4 linked regions of the Homo sapiens genome follow. The protein of the gene in region 2 interacts with the protein of the main gene of each other region in a biochemical or structural test. Each region holds a gene or a part of one and is shown on either strand. Other genes may lie near its edges.

Region 1 (7,520 bases), on a different chromosome or scaffold from region 2:
TCTTTGACCCGCCTCTCTTCTAGGTACTCTGTCTGATCTTCTTTAAGATGGAGGATCACTTTGGTACCCCTGCCAATGGGCTCACCTAGAAGAGTCAATTACAAGCGTGTAACAGGGTAAAAAGTATATGCAGTTGAGACCAGCAATTAGTAAGTATCAGCAGAACTGCTGTGAAGAACTGCTTTACAGACAGGATGCCCAAAATTTCTGCTACTGGTGTGAGCCCAGAAAATCCTAACCCAACTACCTTGTAACAGAAAAGCTAACTTACCATGGTCAGCACGCACAGTGAAGGAACCTCCAGCAGAAGACTCCCAAGCATACTGTTCATCATCGTTGTGCTTTGTGATCACAACCACTTTCTCTGCCACCAAGTAGGCAGAATAAAAGCCAACACCAAACTGCCCAATCATGGAGATGTCTGCACCAGCCTGCCAACAAGTTTAAAGTCAATCACAAGTTTTAAAGAAGCAAAAAACCAAAGAACACAGATAAGTATGAATGCCTACAGAACTGCAATACCTGAAGAGCCTCCATGAATGCTTTAGTACCAGACTTGGCAATGGTTCCCAAATTATTTATGAGATCAGCTTTGGTCATGCCAATGCCTGTGTCTACCAAAGTCAGGGTACGTTCCTGAGGGTTGGGGATGATGTCAATTTTCAGCTCTTTACCACTGTCCAACTTCGAAGGGTCTGTCAGGCTCTCATAGCGAATCTTGTCCAAGGCCTGGAAATACAAACAGCAACTTACTTTTGCTCTTTCCAAGACAGACTCTTGCTCTGTTGCCCAAGCTACAGTGCAGTGGCAAGGATGACAGCTCACTGCAGCCTTGACCTCCCAGGTTCGAGCCATCCTCCCAACCCCAGCTTCCCAAGTAGCTGGGACTACAGGCACATGCCACCGTGCCCAACTAATATTTAATTTTTTGCAGAGACAAGGTCTCGCGGTTGCCCAGGCTGCCCTCGAAATCCTAGGCTCAAGTGATCCTCCTGCCTTGGCATTACAGGTGTGAGCCAACACGCTCAGCCACTTTTGCTTTCTTAAAGCCCGTATCTTCAAAGAAAATCTTGGTTTACCTCTCTCAGCCTCAAATCTGATTGCCCCCTATCTTGAGGCTTTAGAACCAGTTAGTTCCATGAGCCCACTTATTCTGGACATAGTCCCTTCCAAGTTCAAGATGGCCAGAGTAAAACCCATCTTTTTGGAATAGCTGCAAGTTTACCCCCTTCAATAGTAGTCCCCAACAAAGGCCAAACCACTCCTTTCCCCTCCTTCTAGAGTATCAAAAAAAAAAACCATGCCAAATGTGGAAACCAGAGCACCTACATCAGAAGCATTAGAGATCAACTCCCGAAGGAAAATCTCCTTGTTGGAATAGAAGGTATTGATGATGAGGGACATGAGTTGGGCAATTTCTGCCTGAAAGGCAAAAGTCTCCACCTCCTCCTCTCCATGGTGCACTTCCTCAGGCATCTAAAATAAAAATCTCATTAATTACAAAAGAACACTAAGGCCCCATGTTTAAAAATCCTAAAGGTCATATCATTTGTTAGGACCTTAGACAGTGAGTTCAGACTGGTTTAACCGGAGTACTATCCCTTCCCAAGACTAAAAATGCATTCTCTTAAAGATCTCAGACTACACACTAAGTGGGAGGCCTGAAAATTCAGAAGGAAAAAGAAAATAAGCTAAATATTCTTCAACCAAATGTCACAGAACCCACCTACTTAAAGAATGGTGACCAGCAGCCTCAGCATCATCTGGTAGTATGGCAGAAAAATCATAATGTTGGTCCAACCCAGGTATCTAGAGATCCCAAGTAATCCTTACACAAATTTAAATGTGAAAATCACTACCTACAGTTCTTTATTTGGGGGAGATCAAAGTGACTAGTTTAAGATAAAAATGGCACTAACTTTAAACTGCTCCCCCTGAGGTGTCAGTTCCTAAGACCAGTCCAAGGGCGGGACACTCCTGCCCCATAGGGCAGGGAGGAATAACCTGGGATCCATACGATACCCACCGGAGGAGCAATTAAATCCGGACAAAGAATTCTTAAGCCAAAAGCTCCACCACGACCCTTTCACAGCACAAAATTACAGAACAGGACCAAACCCAAGAAAGATGGTGGCCGTAGCCACCAGGCCGACACTCGTCACTGCCGGACATGCGTCGGCCAGGACCACGCGAGGAGGGGGCGCCGCAGTGCACCCTCCCTCGCCCCAGCATCCGGGCACTGGGGCGGGGCGCCAGAATCCAGAAGCTTCCAGAACAATCTCAGCTCTCGAGGAAGGGCGGAGGAAGGAGCCCATGAATCTTCCAGAACCTGCTCCCCTCCCCGCCCCTCCTCCACCGGGACTGCAAGAAAGATCTGGAAGGAGGGAGTATCGGGTGCTGGAGACCGAAAGCTCTCTTCCCACACCGTCAACCCTCCCTCACAGAAACAAAGCACCCAAGAAGGCTTTAACAACGCGTCCGATAAGAGAGGTGACAAAGCCAGTCCCACAAGGCCGTGCTGAGTCACCCGAGCGGGCACCCCCGCCACCCTGCGGTCCCCCTCCGACGCCCCGTAGCCGCGTCCGGAAGTGGAGGGGCAAAAATGGCAGCGTCCCGGGCCGCGCGGCCACCACGTGCAGCTGCCAGCCGCCCACTGCCCCAACCCCACAGCCCACCTCGCTACGGCCAGCAGGCGCCGAGAGAAAGCCCCACCCCCCAAACACACTAGAGAAAACCGAGGAGGACTCAAAAAACCTCACCCACCACTACCCTCACCCTATAAAAATCCAGAGCGTTATCCACAAGCCACCCCGACATCTAGACTAAGGCTCCCTAAAGGACAGAAAAAAACAAAAACAACACGAATACAGCACTAAAGGGAAAGAAGCCTAGCGGAGATCTCAGCCTTACCTTGAAAAGAAAAGGATTATACGTAATAGTGAGCAACGTAGGCTTGCTTTCCGATACCCAGACAGTCCCAACACTGCGCCGGAGTGACTCGAGAGAGCTACTGCGTGCCCCAAGTCGCCCTATATAAGGCGAAGCACAGTACAGCCGCCCTCCTGTAGATCCCTCCGCCTTAAAGGAGTATGATTGTCAACCCCGCACCTGCCGCCACCAGCCCACCTTGACGTCATGGTCCGAAAAAAAGAGGGGGCGGGGAAGAACCCAAGCAACGGATCCGCCCACACATTTGCTTGTGATCACAGCCCCATAGTTTCACGTCTAGGACATGACTCCATCAAGAGCGGGGATGAGGAGTGCTCATTTGGCATAAACGGTGTCTCTACGGGCGAGGAACCCACTGACCTCCCTAAACACTTGTGGGGCAGGCGTCCCCACACCCAAGGGCGGGACTGGGGGGGACACCGAAAAAGAGCGGAGGCAGCTAACCACGCGGACCACCGCTCCCAGACCCAATCTTCTTCCTAGCATCTGCCCTACACATCTCGCGTCCCGACAGAGGGACTGGCATTCGGGACCCAACCTTGGGTAGCCCCAGATCCCGACTCTCGCAGGAGTAGAGGAAGGGCGGAGGGTTCGCGCTGAGGGGCAGCTCAGCGTAGGGGGAGGGCGCCGGCCGGGGCTGGCGGGGACTCTTTGCCGACATGCGGCGGAAGGCGCGGCGGCGGCACTGCGGCATTTCCAGCAGTTTCCAGGCCTGTCTCGGCGGTCCCGCCCCCTCCCCGCGAGGCTCCGCCTCTCCGGCTGCGGCCGGGGCAGGGTTTTTGCAGCGACCCCACCCGGCGACCCGCTCTGACCTGTCCGAGAGACGCGGGTACCAGCCCAATCCTCAGGGATGGGATGGAGGGTTGGGGAGGGATCGGCTGACCCCTCCTTCCCCGCGTCAATCACACAACACCCAGGCACCTGGGGCGGCTCTGCGGGCGTACACTTTTGCAGACTGAGAGTGGAGTACCTGCGGGGGGGACCCCCCTCTAGCCCCTGCGGCCGCCACGTACACGGAGCACGGGGACATGCGCCCTCCCTACGCAGGCACGTCAAGCCCTTTCTCAAGCTGGTTCGCTTTTTTTCCGCCCACTTCGCTCCTGCAGCCATTTGGACCTGGGAAGGAGGGAGTCTCTGGGAACCAGTGCAGGGCAGCCGGAGCTCTTGGAGGCCGCGTGACGATGCCGGCCACAGAGCGGCTGGCCAAGTTGTTCCCCTTCAGCCTTGGCACCAGAGCCCCTAGGCCATGCCCCTGGCCAGTGAGCTGCCGTGTCTGGCCTGGCTCAGCCGTTTTGCCTGCCCTCCAGTTGGCAAGCTGTCCTTGCCTTTCCAAGGCCTCATCCGAAAGCCTGCTGGACCCACAACCCCTCCAGGAGAGAATAGCCACTCCCTGCTCTGTGCCCTGTAGATGTCCATCTGCTCCCCTTCCTGGCCCACCCCTGGGATGCTTGGGAAGAGTTTCCCCACAGCCACCCACATCGTCCTCCCTCACCAGCCCTGTTGTTACCCAGTCTACGATTCGTTAACAAGTTTTGTTCATGTGTTGAATACCAAAGAACAAAGGGTGTCCCTTGCTTTCCTCTTCTTTGTCCCTGTCCACTTCGCCATGCCTGCCATCACCATCCCGATTGGATATCCTTTCTCCCTTTCATTATGGTCTGCAAAAAGCCTATGGCTGGGAGAAGTCTATAAGAAGGGGCGTTGGGTGCTCTATTCCTGACCAAAACCGCAAACCAGTGGGAGCGTGATCCCTTAACGTGTCCTCTCCTTCTAAGCAGAGCTCATTAAAAATCTGCTCCCCAGTTCACAGAGAGCATTCACAAACTCTCACTCTCCTGTGAGCGGATGAAAGTCAGTGTGCACATTCTGTCAACAGGGAAGTGGCTTCAGTGACTCCCAAGGCCCGTCTACTCAGAGTCCTTGCTGCACTAGCTCCCTTTCTGCTCCAGAAATGGAGCAGGGATGTGATCTCACCCCTAGGACCTAAATCCAAAGCAGGAATCACTCCTGTGGATGGGCTTCCCCTGAGCTGGATCCTTTCTGTGTCAAGACTCGACGGCTTCCTGAAGACTTTCTAAATGGGAAAATCTCAAATGTTACACCAGCATAGAAATTCCACTTTCTCTGCTGGGCACAGTGGCTCATACCTGTAATCCCAGCACTTTGGAAGGCCGAGGTGGGTGGATCACCCGAGGTCAGTAGTTCACAACCAGCCTGGCCAACATGGTGAAAAACCTCGTCTCTACTAAAAATTAGCTGGGCGTGGTGGCACATGCCTGTAATCCCAGCTACTTGGGAGGCTGAGGCAGGAAGATTGCTTGAACTCTGGAGGCAGAGGCTGCAGTGAGCTGAGACCATGCCATTGCACTCCAGCCTGGGCAACAAAAGAGAAACTCCGTCTCAAAAAAAAAAAAAAAAAAAAAAGGGGGCTGGGCGCGGTGGCTCATGCCTGTAATTCCAGCACTTTGGGAGGCCGAGTCCAGCGGATCACCAGGTCAGGAGTTCAAGACCAGCCTGGCCACTCTGGTGAAACCTTGTCTCTACTAAAAATACAAAAATTAGCCGGGCGTGGTAGCGCGCCTATAGTCCCCGCTACTTGGGAGGCTGAAGCAGGAGAATCACTTGAACCCGGGCGGCAGAGGTTGCCGTGAGCCGAGATCACGCCACTGCACTCCAGCCTGAGCGACACAGTGAGACTCTGTCTCAAAAAAGAAAAAAAAAAAAGAAATTCCACTTTCTCTTCCAGGAAGCCTTTCAGGAGACCGCCTACCTGTGTCCACAAGCTCCATCGTTTTCCACTCATTGACACTCACTAAGCCTCCACTGTGTGGAGATCCTGGGGATGCAGAGATGCATACACAGGACTGGGAGCCCTTAACCCACTGGAGGCTGCAGCAGCCAAGTGTGAACCATAGGAGGATGGGAGAAGCCGCAGAGGCCCTCAGCTCAGCTTGGGAAAGGGAGCAGTCTTAGGACCATGCCTAGCCAGGCCATGACATGGAAAGCATGGAAAGGAACAGAGCCCCATTAGAGGAACCATAGCTCAGGAACCCCAAAGGGAAGCACAAGGAGTTGAAAGTAGCCCTGCAGATGGGGGTTAGGTCGCAGAGGGCTGCAAATGCCACTGGTAAGAAGTCCTGATCTTAAGAGTGAGAGAAGTGAAGGTTATAAAAGACAGGCTTAAAACTATGTCTTCCAGACTGGGCACGGGTGGCTCACGCCTGTAATCCCAGACCTTTGGGAGGCCAAGGCGGGCGGATCACCTGAGGTCAGGAGTTTTGAGACCAGCCTGACCAACATGGAGAAACCCCGTCTCTACTAAAAATACAAAATTAGCTGGGTGTGGTGGCACATGCCTGTAATTCCAGCTACTCAGGAGGCTGAGGCAGGAGAATCGCTTGAACCCAGGAGGTGGAGGTTGCGGTGAGCCATGATCGCGCTATTGCACTCCAGCCTGGGCAATAAGAGCAAGATTCCGTCTCAGAAAACAAAAACAAAACAAAAAAAAACTACACCGTCCGAAGCCTTATTCCCAGCCTTGGAACCACTGATGTTCCCCAGATCCCTTTTATTCCTCCATGAAACCTCCTAGGCCCAGCCCAACCTTCTGCTGTCGGAGGGTGGCCAGCTAAAGCAGGGATTAACAACCCAAGGTCTGCAGCTGGTGGGCCTGCTGCTTGTTTTTTGAATGGCCTGTGGGCTAAGAAGGGTTTTTACACTTCATAATGGTTGAAAAAAAAATCAAAAGAAAGATATTATTTTGACATGGGAAAATTATATGAAATTTGAATTTCTGTTTTCATGAAGTTTTTTTTTTTTTTTTTTAGACGGAGTCTCACTCGTCTCCCAGGCTGGGGTGCAATGGCAGAATCTCAGCATACTGCGACCTCCACTTCCCGGGTTCAAGCGATTTTCCTGCCTGAGCATCCCAGGTAGCTGGGATTACAGGCGCCCGCCACCACGCCCGGCTAATTTTTGTATTTTTGGTAGAGACCGGGTTTCACCATGTCGGCCAGGCTGGTTTCGAACTCCTGACTTCAGGTGATCTGCCCGCCTCAGACTCCCAAAGTGCTGAGATTACAGTCGTGAGCCACTGCGCCTGGCCAATTTTAATGAAGTTTTGTTGAAACGTAGCCCTTGTCTTTGACTGCTTCTGTAACATAAAGTCAAAATCGATAGGTGTGACAGAGACCATAACGCTTGCAAACCCTAAGACATTTACTCTCTTGCCTTTTACAGAAAACGTTTGCAGACCCCTAAGCTACATAAAGCTCAGCAAAGTCTTGCAGGGAGCACAGAGACTCAGCCTGGACAGAGTCTCTAGGGTTCACAGAGGCCACGGAGGGGAGTTAAATAAAGCTCAGTGAACGAATAAAACAACTGAGGGTAACAGGACATCAGAGATATGAGCATGGAGAGTAGCTGTGGACCCTGAACCCCTAGAACAAGCAGCCTCTTAAGCTCAGTGCCTGCCAGGTGTGTCCCGTTACTTTCTGGGCCTTCCCAGTTCCACGAGCCTTAGCTCTCTGAATTCCTGAGGGAATACCCTGAACTGACACCCTCCAATACTA
Region 2 (7,018 bases):
AGTTCTCCTTCCTCAGTCCCTTGAGTAGCTGGGATTACAGGCGCCCGCCACCAAGCCTGGCTAATTTTTGTTTTTTAGTAGAGGCAGGTTTTCACCATGTTGGCCAGGCTGGTCTCGAACTCCTGACCTCAGGTGAGCCACCCGCCTCAGCCTCCCAAAGTGCTGGAATTACAGGAGTGAGCCACCATACCCAGCCTGTTTTGTCTTTTATAATAAAATGTGCATTGCACATAGTAAAACTATCAAATGGATTAAAATAACTGGGACACTTTTCCTAGCAAACTGTTTCCATCTAGCTTCTTTGGTGCATCAATTTTTTATAGTGAAGGGTGCTTGCAGTGTTTTATAAATTAGAGTTATAACTCACCAGATACTAACATATTAAAATTATGGTATTTAGGAACAAATACGGTCTCTGTCCTTTCAAGGCTAACAAAGAGACCTTTTAGATAGGACTATAGAGGATTTTAGGTTATGCAAAATGTAATTGCTTGGATTGGTATATATAGCCCTTCTATTGAGCTTAGAAATGCTTGTCACATCAGCATGGAATAGGCTGGGCACTGTGCCTCATGCCTGGAATCCTAGCACTTTAGGAGGCCAAGGTGAGAGTATCATTTTGGGCCAGGAGTTCAAGACCAGCCTGGGCAACACTGCGAGACCACATCTCTGCCAAAAAGAAAAAAATCGCTGGCCATGGTGACACATGCTTGTAGTCCTAGCTAACTGGGGGGCACTGAGGTGGGAGAATTGCTTGAGACAAGGAGTTTGAGGTTATAGTGAGCATGGTTGTACCACTGCACTCCAGCCTGGGCCACATAGCAAGACCCTGACTTAGAGAAGCATGGAGACCAGGAGTGATGGCTCACATCTAATATCAGCACTTTGGGAGCCCAAGGCTGGCAGATTACTGGAGGCCAGGAGTTCAAACCAACCATGCCAACATGGCAAAACCCTGTCTCTACTGAAGATACAAAAATTAGTTGGGCATGGTAGCATACCTGTAATCCCAGCTACTTGGGAGGCTGAGACATGAGAATCGGTTGAACCCAGGAGGCGGAGGCTACAGTGAGCTGAGATGTGCCCCTGCTGCACCCCAGCCTGGGCAACAGAGTGAGACTCTGCCTCAAAAAAAAAAAAAAAAAAAAAAAGCATGGAATGTCCGCCTGTGGGGTTTATTGTTGTTTTGCTTTAAGTAGATTATTTACATAATGTATGCAGAGGTGGAAAGTTTTGAATCTATAGGGATATTACTATTAAAATGAATTAACAGTCTTACACAATGGTTATGAGTTTAGCCAGTGTTAGCAGAAAGGCTAGAGATAAATCCAGTATAATTAGTTTAGAAGCTAAAGTTAAAGCTAAACTCAGCCCCCTCTCCATATGTTTTGGGTTTGTTTTTTTAGACGGAGTCTCACTCTGTCACCCCGGAGTGACAGGCTGGAGAACGGTGGCATGATCTTGGCTCACCGCAACCTCCACCTCCCAGGTTGAAGCAATTCTTCTGCCTTAGCCTCCCGAGTAGCTGGGATTACAGGTGCCTGCCACCATGCCCGGCTAATTTTTGTATTTTTAGTAGAGACGAGGTGTCATCATGTTGGCAAGGCTGATCTTTAACTCCTGACCTCAAGTGATCCACCTGCCTTGGCTTCCCAAAGTGCTAGGATTACAGGCATGAGCCACCGCACCCAGCCCTCTCCATATGTTAATAGGAGAAAAAGAGATGGTGTAATCCTCATGGAAGGCAAAAGGAGATTTCATAAACGCTGGTTTTCCATTTTTGTTTTATTGGTTTTGGTTTTTTTTTTTTTTTGAGAAAGTCTTGCTGTCGCCCAGGCTGGAGTGCAATGGCGCGATCACAGCTCACTGCAATCTTCACTTCCGGGGTTCAGGTGATCCTCCTGCCTCAGCCTCACAATGAGTAGATGGAACTACAGGCATGCGTCACCACACCTAGCTAATGTTTTCACATTTTTAGTAGAGATGAGGTTTTGCAATATTGGCCAGGCTGGTCTCGAACTCGGCCTCAAGTGATCTGCCCACCTCAGTCCCCCAAAGTGGTGGGATTATAGGTGTGAGTCACTGCACCCAACCCAATTTTCTTTCTTTTTTTTTTTTTGGGGGGACAGAGTTTCACTCTTGCTGCCCTGATTGGACTGCAACGGCGTCATCTTGCCTCTCTGCAACCCCTGCTTCCCAGGTTCAAGCGACTATCCTGCCTCAGCCTCCCAAGTAGCTGGGGTTACAGGCATGTGCCGTCAGGCCTAGCAATTTTTTTTAAGTAGAGATGGGGTTTCACCACGCTGGTCAGGCTGGTCTCCAACTCCTGACCTCAGGTGATCCTCCAGCTTCAGCCTCCCAAAGTGCTGGGATTAACAGGCGTGAGCCACCACACCTGGCCCAGTTCTCCTTTCAAATGAGGGAATACATATGTGTTTATTCCTGATTCAGGATAAGTGTAGGGCACCCTCCACCCACTTGTAGTTTTTGTTTTTTAAAAGTTTTTTTTTTTTTTTGAGACCAGTTCTTGCTTTGTCATTCAGGCTGGAGTGCTGTGGCGTGATCTCAGCTCACACAGCCTTGACTTCGCAGGCTCAGGTGATCCTCCCACCTCAGTCTCCATGGTGGATGGAACCACAGATACATGCTACCACACACCCAGGTTATTTTTTGTAGAGATGGGGTCTTACCTTGTTGCCCAGGCTGGTCTCAAACTTCTGAACTCAGGTGATGCATCCACCCCGGCCTCCCAAAGTGCTGGGATTACAGGTGTGAGTCACCATACCTGGTCCCCCCATTTGTAGTTGTGTTTTGTTTTTTTGTTTGGACAGAGTTTTTGCTCTTGTTGTCCAGACTGGAATGCAATGGCTTGATCTCGTGAACCCCAATCCTATTTCAGACAGCCCCAATCCTATTTCGGACAGCCCCTTTATGATTCTCAAATTAGTGCTGTGTAAATGGGTATTTTAAGAATCAGGCCGGGCGCGGTGGCTCATGCCTGTAATCCCAACACTTTGGGAGGCCGAGGAGGGCGGATCACGAGGTCAGGAGATCCAGACCTTCCTGGCTAACAGAGTGAAACCCCGTCTCTACTAAAAATACAAAAAATTAGCCGGATGAGGTGGCGGGAGCCTGTAGTCCCAGCTACTCGGGAGGCTGAGGCAGGAGAATGGCGTGAACCCGGGAGGCGGAGCCTGCAGTGAGCAAAGATCACGCCACTGCACTCCAGCCTGGGCAACAGAGTGAGACTCCATCTCAAAAAAAAAAAAAAAAAAAAAAAAGAATCAGCCGGGTGCAGTGGCTCATGCCTGTAATCCCAGCACTTTGGGAGGCCAAGGCGGCAGATCTCCTGAGGTCAGGAATTTGAGACCAGCCTGACCAACATGGCGAAACCCCATCTCTACTTAAAAAAAAAAATACAAAAATTAGCCAGGTACGGTGGCATGCGCCTGTAATCCCAGGTACTCAGGGGGCTGAGGCAGGAGAATCGCTTGAACACCCAGGAGGCAGAGCTTGCAGTGAGCCGAAATCACACCATTGCACTCCAGCCTGGGCGACAGAGCAAGACTCCATCTCAAAAAAAAAGAGTCTCACTCTGTAACCCAGGCTGGAGTGCAGCAGTGGCGCATTCTCGGCTCACTGCAACCTCCTCGCCTCCTGGGTTCAAACCATTCTCCTGCCTCAGCCTCCCAAGTAGCTGGGATTACAGGCACCCGCCACGGTGCCCAGCTAATTTTTGTATTTTTAGTAGAGACAGGGTTTCACCATGTTGGCCAGGCTAGTCTGGAACTCCTGACCACAAGTGACCTGCCCGCCTTGGCCTCCAAAAGTGCTGGGATTACATGTGTGAGCCACCGTGCCCAGCTGACATTGGCACTATCAAATGAAGTGTGGCTTCATGTGAATGAGCACCTGAGGCACAGAAAAGCCCCAACAGCACATTTTATTCAGCTTCAGAATACAAAATGGGAAAAGAGCATATGCTGAAGGTGAAGTTAAAATATCAATGAGCAAGTGGCTCCAATTCCAGCACTCTGGGAGGCTGAGGAGGGAAGACTGCTTGAGCCCAAGAGTTTGAGACAAGATAAGCCTTAGCAACATTGTGAGACCCCCGTCTCTAAAAAAAATTAAGTTAGCTGGGTGTGGTGGTGCACACCTGTAGTCCCAACTACTGGGGGACCAAGGCAGGAGGATGGCTTGATCCCAAGTTTGAGGCTGCAGACAGTGATGACACCACTGCACTCCAGCCTGGGCAAAGTAGTGAGACAGTGTCTCAGAAAAGAAGAAATATTCCCGGAAAACCGCAAGTTCAAAGGTATACCAAGGATCGGGTGCAGCAGCTCACACCTGTAAACCCAGGACTTTGGGAGGAAGATCACTTGAGCCCAGGAGTTCAAGACCAACCTGGACAACACGGTAAGATCCCGTCTCCATTTAAAAGAAAAAAAAAAAAAAAGGCCGGGCGTGGTGGCTCACACCTGTAATCCTAGCACTTTGGAAGGCCAAGGTGGGATGATTGCCTGAGCAAAACGGCGAAACCCCATTTCTACTAAAATACAAAAAATTAGCTGGGCATAGCGGCACATGCCTGTAGTCCCAGCTACTTGGGAGTCTGAGAGAGGAGAATCGCTTGAACCTAGGAGGCAGAGGTTGCAGTGAGCCAAGATCGCGCCACTGCACTGCAGTCTGGGCAACAGAATGAGACTCCGCCTCAAGAAAAAAAAAAAAATTTACAAAGGTATACCGAGGAAGCAGGGAAGCAGCCTCATTCTAGAATCTATCATTGCCGGCTGCGGCAGTAGCTCACGCCTGTAATCCCAGCACTCTAGGAGTCTGAGGCGCGTGGATCATGAGGTCAGGAGTTCAAGACCAGCCTGGCCAAGATGGTGAAACCCCATCGCTACTAAAAATATATAAAATTAGGCCAGATGCAGTGGCTCACACCTGTAATCCCAGCACTTTCTGAGGCCGAGGCGGGTGATCACCTGAAGTCGGGAGTTTGAGACCAGCCTGACCAACATGGAGAAACCCCATCTCTACTAATTAGCCGGGCATGGTGGCGCATGCCTGTGATCGCAGCTACCCGGGAGGCTGAGGCAGGAGAATTGCTTGAACACAGGAGGCGGAGGTTGCGGTGAGCCGAGACCGTGACATTGCACTTCAGCCTGGGCAACAAGAGAGAAACTCTGTCTCAAAAAAAAAAAAAAAAAAAAAAAAAAAATTAGCCAGGCATGGCGGCAGGCACCTGGAATCCCAGCTACTCAGGAAGCTGAGGCAGAGAACTACTTCAACCCAGAAGGCGGAGGTTGCAGTGAGCCGAGATCGCACCAGTTCACTCCAGCCTGGGCGACAGAGCCAGACTCCATCTCAAAAAAACAAACAAAAACCAAAACTATGGGCCGGGCGCGGTGGCTCACGCCTGTAATCCCAGCACTTTGGGAGGCCGAGGCAGGCGGATCACGAGATCAGGAGATCGAGACCATTCTGGCTAACACGGTGAAACCCCGTCTCTACTAAAAATACAAAAAATTAGCCGGGCGAGGTGGCGGGTGCCTGTAGTCCCAGCTACTCGGGAGGCTGAGGCAAGAGAATGGCGTGAACCCCAGGGGGCGGAGCCTGCAGTGAGCCGAGATCGCGCCACTGCACTCCAGCCTGGGCGACAGCGAAACTCCGTCTCAAAAAAAAAAAAAACAAAAAAAACAAACAAAAAAAACCCCAAAACTGTAATTGCCGATCCACACAGTAAATAGTAAAAAGTTCAATACACTATTTCCATAGCAAAATATGCTCACTAGAGTATTTTTTGAGCTCACGTAAATATGATCTTAGGTGTTTAACAGCGAGATTGGTTCTGAACAGTTGATATTTACAAAGGTTTTTTTTCCCCTGAAAAGAGACAATCGCTAACCACAAGACCCAAAAATGATAGCTTGTAGATTTTTAAACCGAGAAAATCCAATTAGTCAGGAGAATCTTAATTTAGCAATAAAACACTGGCTTGCACTCAAGAAATTTTTCACTTCCAGTTTCTACTGCCTTCTAGTTAAAGTCTAACTGAACACAGGAAGAAAAATTAAAAATCCAGTTGCCAGGTTACAGTGCACAGGAAATCAATACTGAACAAAGGCCACCCACCATCAGATACTCAAGTTATAGCAATTAACAATATAGCATATGTTCACTACGACAATTTGTTTTGCAGGCTAAAGATGGACAATTTTATTTTGGAGATTCGTTCCTACACAGCTGAATGACAGGAAGATTTTTACCAAAATCAGAGACGCAAGTTTCTGGACAACTTCCTAATTATATACAAGACATTAGACAGGAAAAACAACAACTTCCAACATCTCTAAAATAAATAAAACATTTTACTTTTTCTCTATTTTTAATCGGTCGAACGACAATGATTCAAAAAGAAAATGCGAAGTAGCACCCTCTGGCAAGGTTAGTTAAGCGGAAAATCTTAAGTGGGGGAAGGTCCTAAAAATCCCAGCCTTCTCCAAGATAGGTCCGAAATTAAGAGCTTTTATGTAAATTATGAGACAAACTTTTATAACTTAGGATTTAAAGAAATGTAACTACGAAATCGCTGAAGAGCAAATGAGTAAATCAAATGAGAAAACACACTCCCAAGCCTTTAAGACACCCAGCATAAATCTCTCTCTCCCCAGAGCTTAAAAAAAATTTATTAGCCAGGCATGGTGGTGCTTGCCTGCAGTCCCAGCTACTCGGGAGACTGAGGCAAGGAGGATCGCTTGAGCCCGGGAGGTAGAGGTTGCAGCTGCACTCCAGCCTGGGTGACAGAGGAAGACCCTGTCTCCAAAAAAAACACTTTTAAAACAAGTTATCAACAAAATAAACCCTTATCAGCCAGATTCTTAAGACTGGATGACGACCCATTAAAGGCTTCTTCCACTTCAAATAACTGACTTACAACTTTCATTTTAAAATTTAAGTCTTTAGCTTGTTAAGAGTCCCTGAAGAATTTACTAAACGGCATATATTATTTTTAAAA
Region 3 (7,499 bases), on a different chromosome or scaffold from region 2:
CTGTGTCTTGTCTCAGCGACGTAGCTCGCACGGTTCCTCCTCACATGGGGTGTCTGTCTCCTTCCCCAACACTCACATGCGTTGAAGGGAGGAGATTCTGCGCCTCCCAGACTGGCTCCTCTGAGCCTGAACCTGGCTCGTGGCCCCCGATGCAGGTTCCTGGCGTCCGGCTGCACGCTGACCTCCATTTCCAGGCGCTCCCCGTCTCCTGTCATCTGCCGGGGCCTGCCGGTGTGTTCTTCTGTTTCTGTGCTCCTTTCCACGTCCAGCTGCGTGTGTCTCTGCCCGCTAGGGTCTGGGGGTTTTTATAGGCATAGGACGGGGGCGTGGTGGGCCAGGGCGCTCTTGGGAAATGCAACATTTGGGTGTGAAAGTAGGAGTGCCTGTCCTCACCTAGGTCCACGGGCACAGGCCTGGGGATGGAGCCCCCGCCAGGGACCCGCCCTTCTCTGCCCAGCACTTTTCTGCCCCCCTCCCTCTGGAACACAGAGTGGCAGTTTCCACAAGCACTAAGCATCCTCTTCCCAAAAGACCCAGCATTGGCACCCCTGGACATTTGCCCCACAGCCCTGGGAATTCACGTGACTACGCACATCATGTACACACTCCCGTCCACGACCGACCCCCGCTGTTTTATTTTAATAGCTACAAAGCAGGGAAATCCCTGCTAAAATGTCCTTTAACAAACTGGTTAAACAAACGGGTCCATCCGCACGGTGGACAGTTCCTCACAGTGAAGAGGAACATGCCGTTTATAAAGCCTGCAGGCATCTCAAGGGAATTACGCTGAGTCAAAACTGCCACCTCCATGGGATACGTACGCAACATGCTCAAAAAGAAAGAATTTCACCCCATGGCAGGGGAGTGGTTAGGGGGGTTAAGGACGGTGGGGGCGGCAGCTGGGGGCTACTGCACGCACCTTTTACTAAAGCCAGTTTCCTGGTTCTGATGGTATTGGCTCAGTTATGGGAGACTAACCATAGGGGAGTGGGGATGGGGGAACCCGGAGGCTGTGCCATCTTTGCCATGCCCGAGTGTCCTGGGCAGGATAATGCTCTAGAGATGCCCACGTCCTGATTCCCCCAAACCTGTGGACAGAACCCGCCCGGCCCCAGGGCCTTTGCAGGTGTGATCTCCGTGAGGACCCTGAGGTCTGGGATCCTTCGGGACTACCTGCAGGCCCGAAAAGTAATCCAGGGGTTCTGGGAAGAGGCGGGCAGGAGGGTCAGAGGGGGGCAGCCTCAGGACGATGGAGGCAGTCAGTCTGAGGCTGAAAAGGGAGGGAGGGCCTCGAGCCCAGGCCTGCAAGCGCCTCCAGAAGCTGGAAAAAGCGGGGAAGGGACCCTCCACGGAGCCTGCAGCAGGAAGGCACGGCTGGCCCTTAGCCCACCAGGGCCCATCGTGGACCTCCGGCCTCCGTGCCATAGGAGGGCACTCGCGCTGCCCTTCTAGCATGAAGTGTGTGGGGATTTGCAGAAGCAACAGGAAACCCATGCACTGTGAATCTAGGATTATTTCAAAACAAAGGTTTACAGAAACATCCAAGGACAGGGCTGAAGTGCCTCCGGGCAAGGGCAGGGCAGGCACGAGTGATTTTATTTAGCTATTTTATTTTATTTACTTACTTTCTGAGACAGAGTTATGCTCTTGTTGCCCAGGCTGGAGTGCAGCGGCATGATCTTGGCTCACTGCAACCTCCGTCTCCTGGGTTCAAGCAATTCTCGTGCCTCAGCCTCCCAAGTAGCTGGGATTTCAGGCATGCACCACCACACCCGGCTAATTTTGTATTTTTAGTAGAGATGGGCTTTCACCATGTTGGTCAGGCTGATCTCAAAATCCTGACCTCAGGTGATCCGCCCACCTCAGCCTCCCAAAGTGCTGGGATTACAGGCATGAGCCACTGCACCTGGCCTATTTAACCATTTTAAAACTTCCCTGGGCTCAAGTCACACCCACTGGTAAGGAGTTCATGGAGTTCAATTTCCCCTTTACTCAGGAGTTACCCTCCTTTGATATTTTCTGTAATTCTTCGTAGACTGGGGATACACCGTCTCTTGACATATTCACAGTTTCTGTGACCACCTGTTATCCCATGGGACCCACTGCAGGGGCAGCTGGGAGGCTGCAGGCTTCAGGTCCCAGTGGGGTTGCCATCTGCCAGTAGAAACCTGATGTAGAATCAGGGCGCGAGTGTGGACACTGTCCTGAATCTCAATGTCTCAGTGTGTGCTGAAACATGTAGAAATTAAAGTCCATCCCTCCTACTCTACTGGGATTGAGCCCCTTCCCTATCCCCCCCCAGGGGCAGAGGAGTTCCTCTCACTCCTGTGGAGGAAGGAATGATACTTTGTTATTTTTCACTGCTGGTACTGAATCCACTGTTTCATTTGTTGGTTTGTTTGTTTTGTTTTGAGAGGCAGTTTCACTCTTGTTGCTCAGGCTGGAGGGAGTGCAATGGCGCGATCTTGGCTTACTGCAGCCTCTGCCTCCCAGGTTCAAGTGATTCTCCTGCTTCCGCCTCCCATTTGGCTGGGATTACAGGCACCCGCCACCATGCCCAGCTAATTTTTTGTATTTTTAGTAGAGACGGGGGTGGGGGTGGGGTTCACCATGTTGGCCAGGCTGGTCTCGAACTTCTGACCTCAGATGATCCACCTGCCTCTGCCTCCTAAAGTGCTGGGATTACAGGTGTGAGCCACCATGCCCAGCTCAGAATTTACTCTGTTTAGAAACATCTGGGTCTGAGGTAGGAAGCTCACCCCACTCAAGTGTTGTGGTGTTTTAAGCCAATGATAGAATTTTTTTATTGTTGTTAGAACACTCTTGATGTTTTACACTGTGATGACTAAGACATCATCAGCTTTTCAAAGACACACTAACTGCACCCATAATACTGGGGTGTCTTCTGGGTATCAGCGATCTTCATTGAATGCCGGGAGGCGTTTCCTCGCCATGCACATGGTGTTAATTACTCCAGCATAATCTTCTGCTTCCATTTCTTCTCTTCCCTCTTTTAAAATTGTGTTTTCTATGTTGGCTTCTCTGCAGAGAACCAGTGTAAGCTACAACTTAACTTTTGTTGGAACAAATTTTCCAAACCGCCCCTTTGCCCTAGTGGCAGAGACAATTCACAAACACAGCCCTTTAAAAAGGCTTAGGGATCACTAAGGGGATTTCTAGAAGAGCGACCTGTAATCCTAAGTATTTACAAGACGAGGCTAACCTCCAGCGAGCGTGACAGCCCAGGGAGGGTGCGAGGCCTGTTCAAATGCTAGCTCCATAAATAAAGCAATTTCCTCCGGCAGTTTCTGAAAGTAGGAAAGGTTACATTTAAGGTTGCGTTTGTTAGCATTTCAGTGTTTGCCGACCTCAGCTACAGCATCCCTGCAAGGCCTCGGGAGACCCAGAAGTTTCTCGCCCCTTAGATCCAAACTTGAGCAACCCGGAGTCTGGATTCCTGGGAAGTCCTCAGCTGTCCTGCGGTTGTGCCGGGGCCCCAGGTCTGGAGGGGACCAGTGGCCGTGTGGCTTCTACTGCTGGGCTGGAAGTCGGGCCTCCTAGCTCTGCAGTCCGAGGCTTGGAGCCAGGTGCCTGGACCCCGAGGTTGCCCTCCACCCTGTGCGGGCGGGATGTGACCAGATGTTGGCCTCATCTGCCAGACAGAGTGCCGGGGCCCAGGGTCAAGGCCGTTGTGGCTGGTGTGAGGCGCCCGGTGCGCGGCCAGCAGGAGCGCCTGGCTCCATTTCCCACCCTTTCTCGACGGGACCGCCCCGGTGGGTGATTAACAGATTTGGGGTGGTTTGCTCATGGTGGGGACCCCTCGCCGCCTGAGAACCTGCAAAGAGAAATGACGGGCCTGTGTCAAGGAGCCCAAGTCGCGGGGAAGTGTTGCAGGGAGGCACTCCGGGAGGTCCCGCGTGCCCGTCCAGGGAGCAATGCGTCCTCGGGTTCGTCCCCAGCCGCGTCTACGCGCCTCCGTCCTCCCCTTCACGTCCGGCATTCGTGGTGCCCGGAGCCCGACGCCCCGCGTCCGGACCTGGAGGCAGCCCTGGGTCTCCGGATCAGGCCAGCGGCCAAAGGGTCGCCGCACGCACCTGTTCCCAGGGCCTCCACATCATGGCCCCTCCCTCGGGTTACCCCACAGCCTAGGCCGATTCGACCTCTCTCCGCTGGGGCCCTCGCTGGCGTCCCTGCACCCTGGGAGCGCGAGCGGCGCGCGGGCGGGGAAGCGCGGCCCAGACCCCCGGGTCCGCCCGGAGCAGCTGCGCTGTCGGGGCCAGGCCGGGCTCCCAGTGGATTCGCGGGCACAGACGCCCAGGACCGCGCTTCCCACGTGGCGGAGGGACTGGGGACCCGGGCACCCGTCCTGCCCCTTCACCTTCCAGCTCCGCCTCCTCCGCGCGGACCCCGCCCCGTCCCGACCCCTCCCGGGTCCCCGGCCCAGCCCCCTCCGGGCCCTCCCAGCCCCTCCCCTTCCTTTCCGCGGCCCCGCCCTCTCCTCGCGGCGCGAGTTTCAGGCAGCGCTGCGTCCTGCTGCGCACGTGGGAAGCCCTGGCCCCGGCCACCCCCGCGATGCCGCGCGCTCCCCGCTGCCGAGCCGTGCGCTCCCTGCTGCGCAGCCACTACCGCGAGGTGCTGCCGCTGGCCACGTTCGTGCGGCGCCTGGGGCCCCAGGGCTGGCGGCTGGTGCAGCGCGGGGACCCGGCGGCTTTCCGCGCGCTGGTGGCCCAGTGCCTGGTGTGCGTGCCCTGGGACGCACGGCCGCCCCCCGCCGCCCCCTCCTTCCGCCAGGTGGGCCTCCCCGGGGTCGGCGTCCGGCTGGGGTTGAGGGCGGCCGGGGGGAACCAGCGACATGCGGAGAGCAGCGCAGGCGACTCAGGGCGCTTCCCCCGCAGGTGTCCTGCCTGAAGGAGCTGGTGGCCCGAGTGCTGCAGAGGCTGTGCGAGCGCGGCGCGAAGAACGTGCTGGCCTTCGGCTTCGCGCTGCTGGACGGGGCCCGCGGGGGCCCCCCCGAGGCCTTCACCACCAGCGTGCGCAGCTACCTGCCCAACACGGTGACCGACGCACTGCGGGGGAGCGGGGCGTGGGGGCTGCTGCTGCGCCGCGTGGGCGACGACGTGCTGGTTCACCTGCTGGCACGCTGCGCGCTCTTTGTGCTGGTGGCTCCCAGCTGCGCCTACCAGGTGTGCGGGCCGCCGCTGTACCAGCTCGGCGCTGCCACTCAGGCCCGGCCCCCGCCACACGCTAGTGGACCCCGAAGGCGTCTGGGATGCGAACGGGCCTGGAACCATAGCGTCAGGGAGGCCGGGGTCCCCCTGGGCCTGCCAGCCCCGGGTGCGAGGAGGCGCGGGGGCAGTGCCAGCCGAAGTCTGCCGTTGCCCAAGAGGCCCAGGCGTGGCGCTGCCCCTGAGCCGGAGCGGACGCCCGTTGGGCAGGGGTCCTGGGCCCACCCGGGCAGGACGCGTGGACCGAGTGACCGTGGTTTCTGTGTGGTGTCACCTGCCAGACCCGCCGAAGAAGCCACCTCTTTGGAGGGTGCGCTCTCTGGCACGCGCCACTCCCACCCATCCGTGGGCCGCCAGCACCACGCGGGCCCCCCATCCACATCGCGGCCACCACGTCCCTGGGACACGCCTTGTCCCCCGGTGTACGCCGAGACCAAGCACTTCCTCTACTCCTCAGGCGACAAGGAGCAGCTGCGGCCCTCCTTCCTACTCAGCTCTCTGAGGCCCAGCCTGACTGGCGCTCGGAGGCTCGTGGAGACCATCTTTCTGGGTTCCAGGCCCTGGATGCCAGGGACTCCCCGCAGGTTGCCCCGCCTGCCCCAGCGCTACTGGCAAATGCGGCCCCTGTTTCTGGAGCTGCTTGGGAACCACGCGCAGTGCCCCTACGGGGTGCTCCTCAAGACGCACTGCCCGCTGCGAGCTGCGGTCACCCCAGCAGCCGGTGTCTGTGCCCGGGAGAAGCCCCAGGGCTCTGTGGCGGCCCCCGAGGAGGAGGACACAGACCCCCGTCGCCTGGTGCAGCTGCTCCGCCAGCACAGCAGCCCCTGGCAGGTGTACGGCTTCGTGCGGGCCTGCCTGCGCCGGCTGGTGCCCCCAGGCCTCTGGGGCTCCAGGCACAACGAACGCCGCTTCCTCAGGAACACCAAGAAGTTCATCTCCCTGGGGAAGCATGCCAAGCTCTCGCTGCAGGAGCTGACGTGGAAGATGAGCGTGCGGGACTGCGCTTGGCTGCGCAGGAGCCCAGGTGAGGAGGTGGTGGCCGTCGAGGGCCCAGGCCCCAGAGCTGAATGCAGTAGGGGCTCAGAAAAGGGGGCAGGCAGAGCCCTGGTCCTCCTGTCTCCATCGTCACGTGGGCACACGTGGCTTTTCGCTCAGGACGTCGAGTGGACACGGTGATCTCTGCCTCTGCTCTCCCTCCTGTCCAGTTTGCATAAACTTACGAGGTTCACCTTCACGTTTTGATGGACACGCGGTTTCCAGGCGCCGAGGCCAGAGCAGTGAACAGAGGAGGCTGGGCGCGGCAGTGGAGCCGGGTTGCCGGCAATGGGGAGAAGTGTCTGGAAGCACAGACGCTCTGGCGAGGGTGCCTGCAGGTTACCTATAATCCTCTTCGCAATTTCAAGGGTGGGAATGAGAGGTGGGGACGAGAACCCCCTCTTCCTGGGGGTGGGAGGTAAGGGTTTTGCAGGTGCACGTGGTCAGCCAATATGCAGGTTTGTGTTTAAGATTTAATTGTGTGTTGACGGCCAGGTGCGGTGGCTCACGCCGGTAATCCCAGCACTTTGGGAAGCTGAGGCAGGTGGATCACCTGAGGTCAGGAGTTTGAGACCAGCCTGACCAACATGGTGAAACCCTATCTGTACTAAAAATACAAAAATTAGCTGGGCATGGTGGTGTGTGCCTGTAATCCCAGCTACTTGGGAGGCTGAGGCAGGAGAATCACTTGAACCCAGGAGGCGGAGGCTGCAGTGAGCTGAGATTGTGCCATTGTACTCCAGCCTGGGCGACAAGAGTGAAACTCTGTCTTTAAAAAAAAAAAGTGTTCGTTGATTGTGCCAGGACAGGGTAGAGGGAGGGAGATAAGACTGTTCTCCAGCACAGATCCTGGTCCCATCTTTAGGTATGAAGAGGGCCACATGGGAGCAGAGGACAGCAGATGGCTCCACCTGCTGAGGAAGGGACAGTGTTTGTGGGTGTTCAGGGGATGGTGCTGCTGGGCCCTGCCGTGTCCCCACCCTGTTTTTCTGGATTTGATGTTGAGGAACCTCCGCTCCAGCCCCCTTTTGGCTCCCAGTGCTCCCAGGCCCTACCGTGGCAGCTAGAAGAAGTCCCGATTTCACCCCCTCCCCACAAACTCCCAAGACATGTAAGACTTCCGGCCATGCAGACAAGGAGGGTGACCTTCTTGGGGCTCTTTTTTTTCTTTTTTTCTTTTTATGGTGGCAAAAGTCATATAACATGAGATTGGCACTCCTAACACCGTTTTCTGTGTAC
Region 4 (7,734 bases), on a different chromosome or scaffold from region 2:
CAGCTCCTCAGGAGGCTGAGGCAGAAGGATCACTTGCGCCCAGGAGGCTGATGGTGTAGTGAACCATGTTTGTGCCACTGTGCTCCAGCCTGGGCAAGAGAGTGAGACTGTCTCTTTTTTTGTTTGTTTGTTTTTTTGAGACAGTCTCACTCTGTTGCCCAGGTTGGAGTGCAGTGGTGCAATCTCGGCTCACTGCAGCCTCTGCCTCCTGAGTTCAAGCAATTGTCCTGCCTCAGCCTCCCGAGTAGCTGGGACTACAGGTGTGTGCTGCCACACCCAGCTAAATTTTTTTGTATTTTTTGTAGAGATGGGGTTTCACCATGTTGTCCAGGCTGGTCACAAACTTCTGACCTCAATTGATTGGTCTGCCTCAGCCTCCCAAAGTGCTGGGATTACAGGTGTGAGCCATTGCACCCAGCTGAGACTGTTTATCAGGATAAAACAAAAATCATGAGCCAGACCTGGGTGTAACTGCCCTGGAGGCCCTTGCTCTGGGTGACCCTGAGTAAAGGACTTACCTCTCCTAAGCCTCAGTGTTCTCAACTGTACAGTGGGACCAAAGACACCTACTTCAGAGTCGAGAGGACTAAGAAACTGCATGCAAAGTAGCTAGCCTGCTGCCTGGCAAGCAAGTGAGGGGGCATAAATTGCTATGGGGTAGGCTATCACCTGAGCCATCTCCAAAACCAGAAGTGGCTCATTTAAGCTTCATAACCACTCTATGAAGAAGACATGTTCATGTCTATGCTACAGATACTGAACTGGATGCATAGAAAGGGTAAGTGACTTGCCCTGGGTCACACAGGCAGTGGCTGAGCTAAGATCTGAATCCAGGCCACCTGGATCCAGAATCCATGCTCCAGCTTTACTGAGGGACACTGAAAGCTTTCAAATAGAGGAGGAAAATGGTCAGATTGCCCTAACAGCAACATCACTGTGGGACGAGGTCAACAAATATTTAGGATGCTAAATCTGCAAGGCTTGGTGATCTATTAGAAATACGTTGTTGAGGCCAGGCACTGTGGCTCACGCCTCTAATCCCAGCACTTTGGGAGGCCAAGGCGGGCGGATCACAAGGTCAAGAGATCAAGACCATCCTGGCTAACACGGTGAAACCCCCTCTCTACTTAAAGAATACAAAAAATTAGCCAGGTGTGGTGGCGGGCGCCTGTAGTCCCAGCTACTAGGGAGGCTGAAGTAGGAGAATGGCGTGAACCCGGGAGGCGGAGCTTGTAACAAGCCAAGATCGCACCACTGCACTCCAGCCTGGGCGACAGAGCAAGACTCCGTCTCAAAAAAAAAAAAAGAAATATGTTGTTGAGGAAGGAAGAGGAGGAGGCTGGACAGAAAAGGCGGTGAAGCAGGAGTGGAAGAACTTGGGGTTGGAGGGCTAGAGGAAGCAGAGGAGCACATGTGGTCTGTACTCTGAAGGAGAGGGCACCACATTCTGAGAACCTCTCCATGACAGGACACCTGGCCTGGTGGGAGGCAGGTGGGGTTCCTAAGAAAATGTGTGAGCAGAAGATCCATTAAAAATTAATTAGAGAAGAACAGAGGGAATGGTGTTCCAGGCAGAGGGAACAGCATTTGCACAGCCTCGTGGGGGCGAGTCATGGGGAGTGCGCCAGACACAGAAATAGGAGCACAGTGGGAACTGGCGCTGTATGGGGAGGCAGCAGCGACCTGCAGGGCCTCACAGGCCTAAAGAGCTCTGTCTTCCTCCTAGAAGGATGGGAAGTCAGCTAGAATTTGCAGAGGGTGGGGAGGAGGGAATAGATAGGGCCAGGTCTGTGTTCTCAAAGCTCACCCTGGCTACAGTTTGGAGACAGACCAGACCATATGCAGGGAGCAGTTAGGTGGTTATGGAGGCCTTCCAGGTGAGCTGACGGTTGTGTGGAAGCGGGGGATGAAGGTGGAGGGAAGTGGCTGGGTTCAAGAGGTACTTAGGAGGCAGAAGTGGCAGGACTCAGTGCCAGATCCGTTGTGGGGATGCTTGGGGTTCTTTAAGGTGGGATAGTCAGTGACCTGGCTAACGAGCCCTCAAAGAGGGCTGGAGACAGGGGGGAAGCTCATGAGGCTCAGCATCCAGGTCTGGAGCTGAGTCCTGGCCGGGCTCTTCCGTGAGTCATCTGCACACAAGTTCTATTAGTGAGAGTGCTGGACAAGATTTCCTGGGGGCAAAGACCCACCTCCAAGAGCTCCGTGATGTGCCAGGGAGAGGGGCATGAGTCTGAGAAGAGAGAAGGAACAGCCAGGGGCTGGCGTGTTGATGGTAGAAACCATTACAGAGTTCGCACCTGGTGGGTAACTGTGGAATGTCACCTGGAGACAGGACAAAAATGTCCTGTTTATTAACCGAGGGGGGAGAGCTGGAAAGACAAGAAGTTGTGGAAGGAAGAAGGGACATTAAAGATGGGGCCTGACGGGAAACAGTGGTTCCCAGTGATGCCCAGACCCAGGGAGGGGCTTTGGAGCAGGTTCACTGGAGAAATGGGGGTAAATGAAGGTCCCCAAAACAAAGGACAAAGAATGTCAGAGCTGGCCGGGCGCCGTGGCTCACGCCTGTAATCCCAGCACTTTGGGAGGCCGAGGCGGGCGGATCACCTGAGGTCACGGGTTCGAGACCAGCCTGGCCAACATGGTGAAACCCCGTCTCTACTAAAAATACAAAAATTAGCCGGGCGTAGTGGTGGGTGCCTGTAATCCCAGCTACTCGGGAGGCTAAGGCAGGAGAATCGCTTGAACCCAGGAGGTAGAGGTTGCAGTGAGCAGGTTGCAGTGAGCAGAGATTGTGCCATTGCCCTCGAGCCTGGGGGACCAAGAGTGAGACTTTGTCTAAAAAAAAAAAAAAAAGAAAAGAAAAAAAAGAACGTCAGAGTTAGGGCCCTGGATGGCTCCTCTATATCTCAAACCCCCTGGGCAATGGCAGAAACTGCGGTAGGAAAAGTTCCTACAAGTGAGGAGAGCGGGGACAGTGGCTGGTGGTGACAGGAAGGAAACAGGCAAAGGCGGCAGTCGCCAGGGAAGACCTTGCGCCCCTTCAGCGACCCGCTCACCGCTCTTCCTGCTTCCGGATTCCTCCCCGCCAGTCCAGGCTGCAGCTGTAGGAAAGCCTGGGCCGGGGGCGCGCCCCCAGGCTGCGCAACAGCTACCACAGGACCAGGCACACACCCGGTCACCACCGCTGGGGCCCGCGCCACGTGGCTGCTAGTTTCCTTCCACTTCCCCCGCTTTGTAATGCCAGGCAAGACGCTTTATGTTGATTTCACACGCTCTTAAGGGGGTCCCAGGCCGCAGTCTGAAAACCCCTGCTCCTGAGCAAGTTGCGTTTCCCTAAAGACCAGGAAGCGGAGGTAGTTCCATCGTTTCTTTACACGGCAAGGAGCTTTCAGATTATTCCGAGGGCCTGGCTATGAGTCTAGGCAGGAGGCGGCCCAATCATGGGAGGCGCCAGAGACAAAGAGGAAGAGGACATGGACTAGGCAGGGAAGCCAGGTCGAAGGAACCCCAATGCCTCCAAGGTTCCCACAGCTGGCCTTGGCCAAAATATCCGAAAATTCCCATGTAGAAACTGGCTTTTCCAGCCTGGGCAACATGGTGAAACCCCGACTCTACAAATAAATACAAAAACTAGACAGGTGTGGTGTCCGCGCCTGTGGTCCTCTGCCCACGCTCGTCCCAGCTACTGGGAAAGCTGAGGCGGGAGGATCACCTGAGCCCGGGAGGGTCGAGGCTGCAGTGAGCCGAGATTCCGCCGCGGCACCCCAGCCTGGGCGACAAAGCGAGAGCCTGTCCAAAAAAAAAAAAAAGAAAAAAAAAAAAAAAAAAACCTTTTAGGGCAAGTTAATCACCAAAGTGTTAGATACTTAATTTGGAGACCGCAAATCGGTCGGCAAAACGATGGGCTTTTCAAAATCATGCCGGGTGTAGCTGGGTAAGCATGAATTTGTTCACCAAGTCCCCGATTCCCAAGCTAAGGGACCCTTAAGTATGAAGCACATGGCTTTCGGGGAACCCAAAAGTAGGGAGCGCTCCCGAGCCAGCGGTGGGTCTGGAGAATCCCCGAGCGCGCAGGCCGCGGGACAGCCTCCCCAGTGCGCAGCAGCCTGAGGCTAACAGCCCCCAGAGGGCAGAGCCCCGCGATCCCGGCGCCGCTTGCGGCTGGATTCTTTGGCAGCGGGCGCGGCGCCAGTCAGGACGACGGCTCCGGAAGTCTCCCGGGCGCGTGAGACCCGGGCCGCTCTCCGTCCACGCACGACCCTCCCTCCAGGCGCGCCTCCCACCCCGGCCCCGCGTTCCGCTCAGCCCGGGTGACCAACTACACCTCACTTCAAAGGCCCCCACGCCCGGGCGTGCCCTCCGCCCGCCCGCGGCAGGTGGGGGTGCAGGGCGGAGGGCGCGGGCGGCCCCAGAAGGCGCCCGGACCTTCCCGAGAATTCCGGGCCGCGCAGGCGCATTGAGGCCGGCGCGGGGGCGTGCGAGAGGCGCGCGGCGGCGATTGAGGGAAGGTTGCCCGGGCCGGGCCACGAGCAGGGCCTGCGCGCGCCCGCAGGAAGGCGCGGGGGCGGGGTGCCGCGGCAACGGCGCATGCGTAGGCGCGCGGCCGCGGCGGCGGCTGGGGAGGGTTCTTCCGGAAGGTTCGGGAGGCTTCTGGAAAAAGCGCCGCGCGCTGGGCGGGCCCGTCGCTATATAAGGCAGGCGCGGGGGTGGCGCGTCAGTTGCTTCAGCGTCCCGGTGTGGCTGTGCCGTTGGTCCTGTGCGGTCACTTAGCCAAGGTGACGGGTGGTTGTGGGGGCCTGTGGAGGTGGACTGGGGACCGGGACTGGGGGCGGCTGGCGCGGGGCGGAGGCTGTGGGGGCCGGACCAGATCCCTGAAGCAGCCAGGGCCGCGCTCCCGGGCGGCCGCGCTTTCTATTCCGGAGGCCTCGGGACCGCTGCGGTTTCCGCACCCCGCTTCAGGAATGGGCCGGGCGGCCGCGGGCTCCCCGAGGCTCTGCAGCAGCGCCAGAGCTGGCGCCGCACGCGAACAGAGCGGCCCCGCCGCGGGGGTCCCCCGCCCGGCCCCGCTGGGGGCGCAGGCGGAGGAGGCCGCCGTGGCGGAGCCGCAGCCCGCGCGGGAGGGCACCCGGGGTGTTCGTTGGGGACCGCGGCGGGGGACTGGGCCCGGGCCTGCGGCGGCCTCCCGGAAGCGCGCACACGCTCGTGGTAGTTGCCGCGCTCCGAAATGAGGTCATCCTTTGTCAGCCGCCCTTCTATTTTCGGTTTACTTAAACTTCGCAAATCTCCAATTCGGCTTTAAAAATATTTGGAGAACGCGATGGAATTTCGTGTTGCCTCTGTAGACGTCCTGCAAGGTTTTAAACCGGCGCGGTGTCGTTCCAGATGCCTGAGGAAACCCAGACCCAAGACCAACCGATGGAGGAGGAGGAGGTTGAGACGTTCGCCTTTCAGGCAGAAATTGCCCAGTTGATGTCATTGATCATCAATACTTTCTACTCGAACAAAGAGATCTTTCTGAGAGAGCTCATTTCAAATTCATCAGATGTAAGTCACTTATTAACCCAGAATCGGATTTTGGTTTCAGTGTGAACTTCTTGGGGGTGCTGTATGCTTAAATTAATATTTTTTGTTAACAGGCATTGGACAAAATCCGGTATGAAAGCTTGACAGATCCCAGTAAATTAGACTCTGGGAAAGAGCTGCATATTAACCTTATACCGAACAAACAAGATCGAACTCTCACTATTGTGGATACTGGAATTGGAATGACCAAGGCTGACTTGATCAATAACCTTGGTACTATCGCCAAGTCTGGGACCAAAGCGTTCATGGAAGCTTTGCAGGCTGGTGCAGATATCTCTATGATTGGCCAGTTCGGTGTTGGTTTTTATTCTGCTTATTTGGTTGCTGAGAAAGTAACTGTGATCACCAAACATAACGATGATGAGCAGTACGCTTGGGAGTCCTCAGCAGGGGGATCATTCACAGTGAGGACAGACACAGGTAGGCACCTGAACATTCACTGGTTAAGTGAGCGGTGGAAGGGTGGGGTGCTGCAACCCTTGGACCCCTGGGGATGCGGTGAAGCTTACAGAATTTGTGTTTGCCCAACGATCAGGAACAAGCTAGAGCACTTAATTAGTGTAATGGCATGACTTGGTGGGCGGTTCTTTTGGGCGAGGCACCTTGCCCAAAAGGTTCTGCTGTGGTGGCCTTTGCATCTGTAGTAACGGCAAACCTTGCTTTATAGACACGTTATAAGGGTGTTAGGCATGGCGTTGAGCACTAAATTGAATGTATTAAGTCAATTTTTCTTTCTTCTCTTGCAGGTGAACCTATGGGTCGTGGAACAAAAGTTATCCTACACCTGAAAGAAGACCAAACTGAGTACTTGGAGGAACGAAGAATAAAGGAGATTGTGAAGAAACATTCTCAGTTTATTGGATATCCCATTACTCTTTTTGTAAGTTTTTATGTAATTGCAGAGTGAATTTCTGTCTGTAGGTGATTGGGGTGACTGTACTACATCCTTAGTCCCTAGATCTGTTCAACTAGTCTGAAGCCTGGGGAACCTAAGCTCTACTACCTAACTCTGTAAAAGTTCCTCGGGCTATTAAGTGGATGTATCAAATATTGATGAAAAGCTGGGTGCTTCTCAAGTTGGCTAATTTAGACTTGGGCCTTAGGTTGAAAATAGTGGTGCAGCGCTGTCGCTTAGTTCTGGAGTGCAGCAGTGATGTGATTTCGTGTTTTCTTTTGAAGGTGGAGAAGGAACGTGATAAAGAAGTAAGCGATGATGAGGCTGAAGAAAAGGAAGACAAAGAAGAAGAAAAAGAAAAAGAAGAGAAAGAGTCGGAAGACAAACCTGAAATTGAAGATGTTGGTTCTGATGAGGAAGAAGAAAAGAAGGATGGTGACAAGAAGAAGAAGAAGAAGATTAAGGAAAAGTACATCGATCAAGAAGAGCTCAACAAAACAAAGCCCATCTGGACCAGAAATCCCGACGATATTACTAATGAGGAGTACGGAGAATTCTATAAGAGCTTGACCAATGACTGGGAAGATCACTTGGCAGTGAAGGTGAGTGACTGATGGGTGCTTCAAGCTTGTCCTTAGATTATCATCTTTCTCCACCACCCCAAATATCTTCTATAATGCATTGTTCATTGGTACTTAGTGTATCTGTTTTATTACAGCATTTTTCAGTTGAAGGACAGTTGGAATTCAGAGCCCTTCTATTTGTCCCACGACGTGCTCCTTTTGATCTGTTTGAAAACAGAAAGAAAAAGAACAACATCAAATTGTATGTACGCAGAGTTTTCATCATGGATAACTGTGAGGAGCTAATCCCTGAATATCTGAGTAAGTATAGATAGGAAAAATAATCACTGTCACTGATTAAAGAAGTACTTTCTGGGTGGGCATGGTGGCTCACACCTATAATCCTAGCACTTTGGGAGGCCGGGGTGGGCAGATCACTTGAGGTCAGGAGTTCAAGACCAGCCTGGGCAACATGGTGAAACCCCATCTCTACTAAATTACAAAAATTAGCCCCATGTAGTGGCAGGCTGAGGCATGAAAACAGCTTGAACCCCCCCGGGAGGCAGAGGTTGCAGTGAGTGGAGATTGCGCCACTGCCCTCCAGCCTGGGCAACAGAGTGAGACTGTCTCAAAAATACGTCCCATCATCTTCAGGTTATCTTTGATTTTGGGAGTTTACATAGTACCAGTTTT

What was found.
Region 1: the proteins of PTGES3 (region 2) and HSP90AB1 form a complex in vitro, tested with the Homo sapiens proteins (3 studies listed by BioGRID and IntAct, with this or other methods).
Region 3: the proteins of PTGES3 (region 2) and TERT form a complex in vitro, tested with the Homo sapiens proteins (2 studies listed by BioGRID).
Region 4: the proteins of PTGES3 (region 2) and HSP90AA1 form a complex in vitro, tested with the Homo sapiens proteins (10 studies listed by BioGRID).

Annotation. Positions count from the first base shown.
Region 1 is NC_000006.12:44,242,586-44,250,105, reverse strand, and holds the start of HSP90AB1 (heat shock protein HSP 90-beta), read right to left. Parts: upstream 3,006-7,520; 5' UTR 2,911-3,005; intron 2,164-2,910; exon of another isoform or gene 2,027-2,163; intron 1,490-2,026; exon of another isoform or gene 1,477-1,489; coding exon 1,330-1,476; intron 730-1,329; coding exon 523-729; intron 432-522; coding exon 272-431; intron 86-271; coding exon 1-85. UniProt on the Homo sapiens protein: Molecular chaperone that promotes the maturation, structural maintenance and proper regulation of specific target proteins involved for instance in cell cycle control and signal transduction. Undergoes a functional cycle linked to its ATPase activity.
Region 2 is NC_000012.12:56,678,281-56,685,298, forward strand, and holds part of PTGES3 (prostaglandin E synthase 3), read right to left. Parts: intron 1-7,018. UniProt on the Homo sapiens protein: Cytosolic prostaglandin synthase that catalyzes the oxidoreduction of prostaglandin endoperoxide H2 (PGH2) to prostaglandin E2 (PGE2).
Region 3 is NC_000005.10:1,292,063-1,299,561, reverse strand, and holds the start of TERT (telomerase reverse transcriptase), read left to right. Parts: upstream 1-4,493; 5' UTR 4,494-4,572; coding exon 4,573-4,791; intron 4,792-4,895; coding exon 4,896-6,249; intron 6,250-7,499. UniProt on the Homo sapiens protein: Telomerase is a ribonucleoprotein enzyme essential for the replication of chromosome termini in most eukaryotes. Active in progenitor and cancer cells. Inactive, or very low activity, in normal somatic cells.
Region 4 is NC_000014.9:102,084,027-102,091,760, reverse strand, and holds the start of HSP90AA1 (heat shock protein HSP 90-alpha), read left to right. Parts: upstream 1-4,716; 5' UTR 4,717-4,775; intron 4,776-5,382; coding exon 5,383-5,544; intron 5,545-5,636; coding exon 5,637-6,003; intron 6,004-6,329; coding exon 6,330-6,463; intron 6,464-6,762; coding exon 6,763-7,080; intron 7,081-7,196; coding exon 7,197-7,362; intron 7,363-7,734. UniProt on the Homo sapiens protein: Molecular chaperone that promotes the maturation, structural maintenance and proper regulation of specific target proteins involved for instance in cell cycle control and signal transduction.